Linked DNA regions of Homo sapiens: regions 1 and 3 are each reported to be linked to region 2. Evidence: microRNA targets listed by miRTarBase, many of them from high-throughput screens and not tested one by one. Region 2 holds a microRNA gene; each other region holds the end of a gene's coding sequence.
What was found. Region 2 holds the annotated microRNA hsa-miR-1287-3p (CUCUAGCCACAGAUGCAGUGAU, at 1,487-1,508, shown strand). A microRNA usually pairs through its seed, bases 2 to 8, with sites in the 3' UTR of a target mRNA and lowers its output. Matches are read on the target gene's strand: a 7mer-m8 pairs with bases 2 to 8, a 7mer-A1 pairs with bases 2 to 7 and ends in A, and an 8mer does both.

Region 1: the mRNA of MYLIP is a reported target of hsa-miR-1287-3p. Seed matches in the 3' UTR shown: 7mer-A1 at 1,760-1,766.
Region 3: miRTarBase lists HEMGN as a target of hsa-miR-1287-3p. Seed matches in the 3' UTR shown: 7mer-A1 at 758-764.

Annotation. Positions count from the first base shown.
Region 1 is chr6:16,146,210-16,149,429 of GRCh38, forward strand. It overlaps MYLIP (myosin regulatory light chain interacting protein), which reads left to right. Exons shown (of 7, transcript NM_013262.4): 7 at 453-2,039. The coding sequence ends at 542. It also overlaps the pseudogene LOC124901514. Among named protein-coding and RNA genes, the nearest start is that of MIR4639, 6.3 kb to the left of the region's middle.
Region 2 is chr10:98,393,480-98,396,739 of GRCh38, reverse strand. MIR1287 (microRNA 1287) reads left to right here and starts at 1,433; the gene lies at 1,433-1,522. It overlaps PYROXD2 (pyridine nucleotide-disulphide oxidoreductase domain 2), which reads left to right. Exons shown (of 16, transcript NM_032709.3): 7 at 1,288-1,349; 8 at 1,447-1,544.
Region 3 is chr9:97,924,704-97,927,963 of GRCh38, reverse strand. It overlaps HEMGN (hemogen), which reads left to right. Exons shown (of 4, transcript NM_197978.3): 4 at 486-1,173. The coding sequence ends at 580. Among named protein-coding and RNA genes, the nearest start is that of TRMO, 3.8 kb to the right of the region's middle.

The sequences.
Region 1 (3,220 bases), not on the chromosome of region 2:
GAAGCAGAGCCACCCTCCCTGGCCATGTGGGCATCAGCCCAGAAATGTTGGCCTGAGTCAGTCAGCTGAGCTAAGGACACACAATTTCAAGAAGGGTCTCCTGCATTGCTGCCTGAAGTGTTATAGTCTACTCATGTAGAGACCACATTCTGCACAGAAAGACGTCTTCAGTAATTGCTTTATTCAATGTACCTTCTTTAGCGTTTCACTAAAAATGTAATTAATTTCCTTCAGTTTATACTATGTCATAGTATTTATTTTTAAGCCCTTGTAAAGTATAAACTTTCAACCTGTGAGACGGCAAAGATCTCTACCAATTGAAAGCTAGAAATCACTGTGATCACAATTGATTTAGAAAATTAAATGCACTAGAGACCAGGGGTGTGCACAGAGACACAGGCCCCCCACCGAGGCTTGCATGCTAACAGAGACTGTTGGCTTTTCTTTCCCAGTCATGTCCCGTCTGCAGGTCGCGTGTGGAGCATGTCCAGCACGTCTATCTGCCAACGCACACCAGTCTTCTCAATCTGACTGTAATCTAATCTGTTGTGCTTTTGTTGGACTTGGCATGTTTCCATGAACTGCACTATTATAAACTATTAAAATGATAGATTGTGGAGAAAGTAATTATTCCAACACCCATCTGCCATGCGATGTTAAAAAAAAAAAAAAGGAAGAAAAATAACACAGCTACTCCTCACTGCAAAAACATATCCATGCGTAGAATCAACAACTCCAGTCATGGGACCAGGAGGAGCTCTGGGACGCAGACACATTCCTTGGATGTTGATTTTTTTTATGATCTAGTAAAGGAATAGGTAAAGTCTTTGATGTCAGTGAAGTGGCAACATAGCCAAAAAGTTGGGTACCTTTTAGGAAATGATGTTGTAAGTCTCCTTAATGTATCCTGAGGTAAGTTTCCTACTGGCAGCAGATTTTGTAAGAATTACTTTTAAGAATTTCATTCTTTTTGTATGGTCATGGAGCTCCAACCATTTTTAATAGGAAAGTCTTTTGTAAATTGTTGTCGTTTTAATGTCATTTCTGTCTTTATAACTTGATCAAGAATGATTGGAAGGCAAACAGGTTTACAAATCAATTCTGTGACTTTTAAAAAGTTGACAATGTTGTCAGATTTAAACCAGTGTGGCTAGTAAAAAGCAGCTCACTCAATGTGGGTGGCTCCCTATTCCTTTACGCTCCCCCTATCCCTACCCCACAAGCCTTTCGATTATAAAATACTACCAATCTTGTTATAAGATTACTGTGGAGTAGTCAAGTACTCCCCGGGCCTTCTGAGCTGGTGGAATATTTTATTTCAGACTGAAAACAGAGAGCACTCTCCTTGGGAAGGGAAAGCGGAGCTTGCTGAGTGAGAGATGGAGCCTCATGGTGTACAACTGAGGGTAGTTAACTCATCACTTCTCCCAAGCACTCGATCCCAGCTTCACCCACTGGTGTTGCTTTGCTTGAACTGTTCAAGCCTTTTATAGCCTTACCATAAGTATTTAGATATGGTGTCCTTTTCTGTTTTTGGGGGGGGAGTTTTGTTGTGTTTTTTTAAAGTAAGTGCTTAAGTATTAACTTTGGGTTGTCCCCTCTGTATGTTTCGAAGGGGTTTTGGTTCTTTTTGCTTCTGTTTTCTTAAACATGTTTTCCACTCCCACTTGGGCATTTTGGAAGCTGGTCAGCTAGCAGGTTTTCTGGGATGTCGGGAGACCTAGATGACCTTATCGGGTGCAATACTAGCTAAGGTAAAGCTAGAAACCTACACTGTCACTTTACTGAGATTTCTGAGTATACTTTTCATATTGCCTTAATGTAGCAGTAATGTGTTTATGCATTTGTTTCTTTGCACAGACATTTTGTCAAATATTAAAACTCTACTTTTTTATGGCACATATTAGCATATAAGCCTTTATTCCAAGAGGTATTTATTTTTTCACTTGTAAAAAAATAATGTTTCCACGTAAAGAACTCTGTTATATCCTAGAGGACTCTGTCTTTTATATTCGGGATAATAAAGACTTTAAAGCAAACATGGATGTGTGTATTGTCATTTAAGCCAGTTTTATTTCATTTCAAAGAAATAAGCAAGGGGTAACATCACAGTTAGTATCTACTTTCCTCCTACCGGGAATTTAATTTTTTTTTTTTAATAATTTCGGTGCTCTACAAATTCAGAGAAACTTCTTTAGTAACAAACTATAGAAATGATCCTTGAGAGTATAGTCTTTTTTTTTTTTTTTCAAGAAAACTTGAAAATATTTGTGGTATTGGTTCTAATGGAGATCACTTCACCAGGTTATTCTCTTATTTATGTCTTTGGGTGGTTAGATTGGTATGTAGGGGAAAATGGGGTCATGAACATAAGCAGATGAAAAGAAAAAATCAGGACAAGTACTGGAAGCTATTGGAGAAGGAAGGAAGTGGCAAAGCTGGAAGTTAACAATTAACAACCCAGCTGGTGCTGCTGGTGTGTGGCCTGCTCAAGACAGGGGAGTGGCCTGGGTCATAGCAGTAAGGGCCTCGGGCTACAGAAGCTCGGGCTGTATTCCTGCAGGACTGCTGGTCTACTCCTGCTAGGTCCTAACTGCTCTATGCTTGCCAGTGTGTGCTCATCTGTGTTTCTCCAGAAATACATTTTGGAATAGAGAATATTGTACATAATATATATAAGTGATAATTATCTGTAGCAATTGGAAGAAGTAAATTTATTTTTTTTAATTAGAGGCAGGGGTATTTGTTTTTACTGTACCTATAACCTAAGTCAATCTTCCATCAATTTCTAGGAATTAACTAATTTGTTCATTCAACACATTTATTGAAACCTACTAAGTTATTGAGCCCTGGAAATTTAGCAGTCATCAAGACATAAATGATTCTGGATGCCTGTATCATGTACTTAGCCTGTAACGTGTACTTTTGTCTCTGCGCGGAAGTTAGATAATATGCAGAATCCACGAATACTAGCATCAGAGGGAGTCTTGGGCATACCAGTATCAAAATGCTAACCAAGTTGATGGAGGGATGGATGGATGACAGGCTGACAGATAAGATTACATATTATTCACCCCACTAGACCATATGGACGCCTTAAGCTCAGTGACTAACATGAAAACCACTATATTACATGGTGGCATCATAGAATTAGAAGGGAAGAACAGTGGAGGCACAGGAGGCAGGGATTCATTGTGCTTAGGAGCCAAGGATAAAGGTG
Region 2 (3,260 bases):
TGGAGTTGCCTGTGTGAAGCTGATCAAAGCCTGCTTGGAGCTCAGCATCATGGCTGTGGCTAGAATAAGATATAGGGGCCAAGAGATTTGAAGAGCTGCCCCCATACAGGAAGAATGCTAGATTTGGGCTCAGCAAGGAGAAGTTCTGTGATCAATTAGTAATGTCTGCCATGAGTATGCGAATGGAAGGCTCATTAAGTGTGCTATTATTTTCTACCCTCCTTGAGGGTATACAGACCAGTTTAACCTCTATATCCTAGAAAAAAAATCATTTGTTTCCCACATGTCTTCGTGGTTCAGCTGATTCCAGCTGGCTCAGCTGATCTGGTTTGGTCTCAGGCATGTGTTTGTGTCTGCAGCAGCTCAGTGGAGGCAGCTCTGCTCCAGGTACCTCTCGTCCTCCTTGTAGAAGCACATGCTGACCTGGGTGTGGACTTTTCACATCAGTGGCACAAGCACAGAGGGCATGCCCCAATGTACAGGCCTGTTTCAGTTCTGGGTTTGTGTCACATCGGCAAACATTCCACTGGCTGACCAAATCACATGGATGAGCCCAGAGCCAAGGAGCCAGGCAGGTTAACCAAGTTGTGGTGGGTTGAGAGGCACTGCAGACTTATACATTGCAAAGAGTATGGAGCCAGTGGAATCTATTACAAATGCAAAAAGTAGACACTGCCTCTCTCTCAGATAACCAGTCCAAGGAGCTCTGTGTGAAAAACAGGCAAAAAACATTTATTGAGCAACTACTATGTGTCAGACACTAAGCTAGGCCCAGGGGCTGTAAGGCTAGAGACCATGATTTCTACCCTGAAGGCCTTAAAGCCTAGTTTCTTTCTGAAATGGTCTGAATCAGGGTCATAGGAATGGATCAGCCATGCCAGCCTTCTCCCAGGATATGGGCCTTCCAGAGTTCGAAATAAGGGAATAAGGTACAAGTTTAAAATTTTCCAAAAATAATGCTAACTGCTTAAATGTATTAAGTACCCATGAACTTGCAAATGCTTTACCTAGCTCATTTAATCCTCACCGTAGCCCTTGGGGTGTAAAATAGGATTCCCATTTTACAGGTAAAGAAGCAGGTTCAGAGATGTTAAAAATGTGTCCCAGGCACTGCAGCTAGTGAGAGGTGTGGCCAGGACTCAAGCTGGATCTGTCCCTGCATTGGCTGTGCTATACCACCTCCTGGCAGGAAGTCTCAGCATCCTCCATGCTTTTATCCCCCAGGCCAGGTCGGAGGGTTTCCCTGTCACCTGTTTCAACTTCTGTTTTGTGGATCTTCTCTTGTAGGCCGCATCCTGGGAGCCCAGCTTCCCCGATATTATGAGGTCCTCACAGCTCCCATTACCAAGGTGAGTGGTTCCCCAGCCTCAGGCCCGACCAGGCAGTGAGAGGGCCCTCCTCCCATCCAGGCTCCTAAGCCCTTCTCTCTGCTGTTGTGCTGTCCAGGTGCTGGATCAGTGGTTCGAGTCTGAGCCTTTAAAAGCCACTCTAGCCACAGATGCAGTGATTGGAGCCATGACAAGTCCCCACACTCCGGGGAGTGGGTGAGTGAGGGGGGTGAGGTGGGACACAGGAGTGGGGCATGTTCCCCAACAGGAGTGAGGACAACAGTGGCAGTGGCAGCAACAACAGCTGCCACTTAACAGAGCTCACCCAGTGAGCCAGGAACCGAGCCAGGCACATCACACACGATCCACTTAACCCTCAGAGCAACATCTGAGAACTGCGGTTCAGAGAAGGGAGTGTCTTGCCCAAAGCCACTCAGCTGGTAAGTGGCAAGGCTGATTTCCAGCTTGAGGTGTCTGACTCCCCAAAATCTTCCTTTTTAGTGACTGTGCCCTACTGCTTCACTAAGAAAAGCCTCTCTCCCACCTCCCGCTTGATAGCTCAAAATTAATATCTTCTTTTCTCTCCTCTTCCCTTCCCTCTTCTACCTCTCCACTCCCGCAAACGCCCATTCTCCCTTCTCTCTCACTGTTCCTTCCCCTGGGCTCTGGTACACACTCACACAGACACCTCAGGATGGACAGGAAGCTGCCTTTTTCTTTATGAGTGAGGGTTTGTGCTGACAGCCCAATCCGAGAGGTGGCAGTCAGACACAGCAAAGCCTGCAGTGTGGTCTGACTTAATGAGCCCCCGCAGAAGCAGGAATGGAAGGCTGTGTGTGTGTGTGTGTGTGTGTGTGTGTGTGTGTGTTGGGATGGAGAATGCAGCCAAGGGTTGGGCCGTTTCCAGTGCACCAGAAGATACAGCTAGAAGCTAGAAGCTAGAAGGCGTCGACGTGGCTTTTCTCTCAAGGGATGAGCACACCCTCGGAAGTGGTTTTTCAACACATATTAAGCCGGCCCCAAATTCCCCCAGGGCGATGGAGATGGGGGCTTGGCAGCAGTTGCCACACATTGGCCAAGCTGTGATCTACCAGCCAATCTGGATCTTCCAGCTGGGGCCTCCTGCCCTTTTCTCTTCGGATCCCTGGGAGGCTTAACCAGTGCTCCGTTTGTGATCTTTAAGTAATCTGTTCCATCATTAATTCTTCCAACAAATATGGATGAGCGCTTGCCTGTGCTAGGTGCTGGGGATACGGTAGTGAGCGGAGCAGATGTCCTGATGGGTGAGAGACACAGAGCGAGTGATGATGATGAAGTGGCGTGAGTGTGATGCTAGGAGGAGCAGCCGGGACACAGCCTGGTCTAGGGTCAGAGAAGCCTCTACATGGAAGAGGTGTTTGATCTGAGACCCAAAGGACAAAGAGGAGTTAACAAAACATAAGATGAGGGAGGGAGGGGCTTCAGGCCGACAGAACAGCAGGGGAAATGCTGGGGTTGAGAGAACGTGTGATCCACCCAGGAAATCGAGAGGTTCTGTTAGTTAGGAGGATGGGATATGGATAGGGGGACAGGATGAGGGATGAGGCTGGAGTGCCTGCTAGAAGACTGGCCATTATCCTAAGAGCAGTGCCAAGCCGGGGAGGCTTGGAATGGTGATAAGTGAGTGGCAGGAGCAGAGCTGGGCTTTAAGATAGGGCTCCAGGATATATGTGGACAAGACCTGCAGGAGAGAAAGTGTGGGAGAGGGGGTCCAATGAGGGGCACTACTGCAGCAGCATAAGGAAGAGAAGAGAGGCTGAGAGGTGGGATGACCTTGAAAGCCCTTTGGAGGCTGAGTTGGTGTTGCTTTGTGGATGTAGATGGGGAAGGATGGTAGCGGTCAAGGCTGACACCTGGATTTCTGTCGGAAACAGAACCTCCTGTTGAAAGGTG
Region 3 (3,260 bases), not on the chromosome of region 2:
GTCTTAATCACCCCCTTTTATAATTAATGTTACTAGACATCTTTTCAGGATTATTATAAATATAATTTTTTAAGAATTGCCTGTTTGAATCCTTATCCCATTCAACATTTTTTATTTCTTTTTTCCGATTAAAAAACCTCTTTAAATAATAGTTTTTACTATGTATATGTTGCAAATATTTTTCCAGTTGTCTTTGATTTGGTTTAACTTTGTTTATAGTGGTTTTCACCATATATAATTTTACTTTTTAGGTATTCGAACTTGCTAGTCTTTTCCTTTATGGTTTCTGGTCTCTGTGTTCTGCTTAGCATCCTAAGATTACTAAAAACACTATTATTTCTATAACTTTATGGTATTTAAAAATTTACCCCATCTACGGTTTGTTGTTGTGTATGTTGTAAAGCAGTTTTTCTTCCTCCAAATGGAGAGTCAATTGTCCCAATACAATTTATTGAATCTATTTTTTATTTTATTTGATTTTACAGAAATGAAAGAAAAACCCAAAGAAGAGCCAGGAATACCAGCAATTCTGAATGAGAGTCATCCAGAAAATGATGTCTATAGTTATGTTTTGTTTTAACAATGCTCAACCATAAAGTTGTGGTCCAATGGAACATACAGCTTAATAGTTTATGCGTGATTTTCTCAAAATATTGTAAAACTTTTGACAATGCTCATTAATATTATTTTTTCTATTTGTAGACCATATCTGAAAGAAATAACATTTTTTAAGGCTCTACCACATAGACAATATCATGCTAGAATGTGTGTGTGTGTGTGTGTGTGTGTGTGTGTATGTATGTATAGGTCGGGGAGAGGATAGTGGTGGGAACAGACAAATAAGGAAGCGGGGAGGACTGGATAATTGGTTTTCCCCCCTAAGAACATTTATTTACGTCTTAAGAGCAGATAAGTGACTAAGACTGAACACATACATTTTGTGGAGTATATAGTTTTCTTGTAAATGCTGTTCAATTATTAATGTAACAGTAGCATCAAAATTTTATTCAGGCTTTAGTTGACTCTTTTGGTCAGTTTTAACAATTCTCCTTAAAAGATATTTTGGAGTGATGAATGTAGTTTACTTTTGTATTTGAATTTTGATTTTCTATTTTTATTTTTTAAATATTGTATTTGTGCACAATGTACATTAAATCATTATTACATGCTTAACTGTGTGGATACCATCATGTTAAGAATTGCGGAGGTTAGAAGACCTATCTAACACCCCACGGTGGGGTTAATTTGGTTTCATGGGGAAATAAAACAGAAAACAAATAATCACAAAAGAAAATAGTAAGGGCTGGTGCCATTTGAATGGTAGATACAAACAGAGAATGCTCACTTTTTGCTGGAGTGACCTGAAAAAATTACACAGGCATGAAGCCTTGAAAGACGGAAAGTATTTGCATAGATGAGGATAGCAGCATTACTGTATGTGACAAAGAGAAGGGTGAGTTCAAAACATGTTCAAGAGAACTGCAGGCAAACTATGGTTAATGTAGAGTCCATATGAAATAGTAGTAGGCTTGCATGCTGAAAAGCTCATATTACTAGAGCATAGAATATTTTGCTTACCTAACCAAGAAATATATCACTTGTTAAAAATGGGGAATGAAGTCAGATTTTTGAACAATGGAATGGCAATTTCACTATTTTAGGAATATGGTAAATATGGTGATAATGGTAAAGATTAACTGAAAACGACAAGAGACCGGGGCAGGAATAGAAGCTGTTCTGGATGGGAAGATGTCTGAAAATCTACCCTGGTATTTTTTGTTTTCACTTTTCCTTCTGTTATTACAGAGGACTAAGGATATTTTTGCAAATAAAGTTTCATTCAGCAAGAACACACTTGCACAAGCTTTCCATATAGACACTGTGCTAGGTACTAGCTATATCAAAGAACAAGACAGGGTCACAGTCCCTCAGGCATTCATGGTATAATGAACATGAGAGAGCAGTGGTTCTTTCAACCCTTCTGGTACATTAGACTCACCTGGGAAGGTTTCAAAAATACATATATGTCCAGACTTCTCCCCCAGGGATTCAGATTCCCCCATCTAGCTGATGTACAGGCATAGGTATATTTATTTTTTAATTGTTTTATGCTTCAAATAATAGTTTTTGGAGGAATAATTTTAGAATTACAGAAAAGTTGTCATGATAGTACAAAAGTTACTATATACCTTTCGCCCAGTTTACACCAATGTTAACGTCTTACATAACCATGGGCCATTTGTCAAAACTAAGAAATCAGGATAGTTACACTACCATTAACTACAGACATTATTCCGTTTTCATGAATTTTTCCACTAATGTGCTTTGTCTGCTTCAGGGTCCAATCCAGGATATAGAATTGCATTTAGGATGTTTTTATTTTAAAAGCTCTCCTGACAATCCTAAAGTGGAGGTAGGGTTGAGAACCAATAGTACAGTGGGATGTTACAATATTGTTTCCCTCCTATCTGCCTACCCCCTTTTGTGTGTACATTAAATTTTTTACCATCAGGATGTATTCATTGCACAATTATTCATACCCCTATTATATTTATTACACAACATACTGAGGGCAGGGCAGCACAACCACATAATAGTTTCGTCTCTTTTTTTTTTTTTTTTTTTTGAGACGGAGTCTCACTCTGTCGCCCAGGCTGGAGTGCAGTGGCACCATCTCGGCTCACTGCAAGCTCCGCCTCCTGGGTTCACGACATTCTCCTGCCTCAGCCTCCCGACTAGCTGGGACTACAGGCGCCCGCCACCACGCTTGGCTATTTTTTTTTTTTTTTTGTATTTTTAGTAGACGGGGTTTCACCATGTTAGCCAGGATGGTCTCAATCTCCTGACCTCGTGATCCTCCTCGGCCTCCCAAAGTGCTGGGATTACAGGAGTGAGCCACCGCGCCCGGCCACAACCATATAATAGTTTCTTACCTCTCAATGACACTTCAACATTTATACTTTCACATAAACTATTTTATTTGATCTGTACAAAAGTATGTGAAATAGGCCAGGCGGTGATTATCACTCTCACTTAAAGATGAGGGAATAACATAGAGGGAAGGTACTCACCCAAAGTCACATCTGACTTCCTCAGTGCTTTTTTTTCTTCTTTGGAATGTGCTTCTGTCTCAATTTCACCTGCCAGAGTGGGCCAAAATTAGAGGAAAAAAAAGAGTAAACTGAAGTCTCAAGTTCTAACAGCGTTGCATTAAGATGGACCTTAAGAGATTTGCATACGTACAGTGCACAGGAGCACAA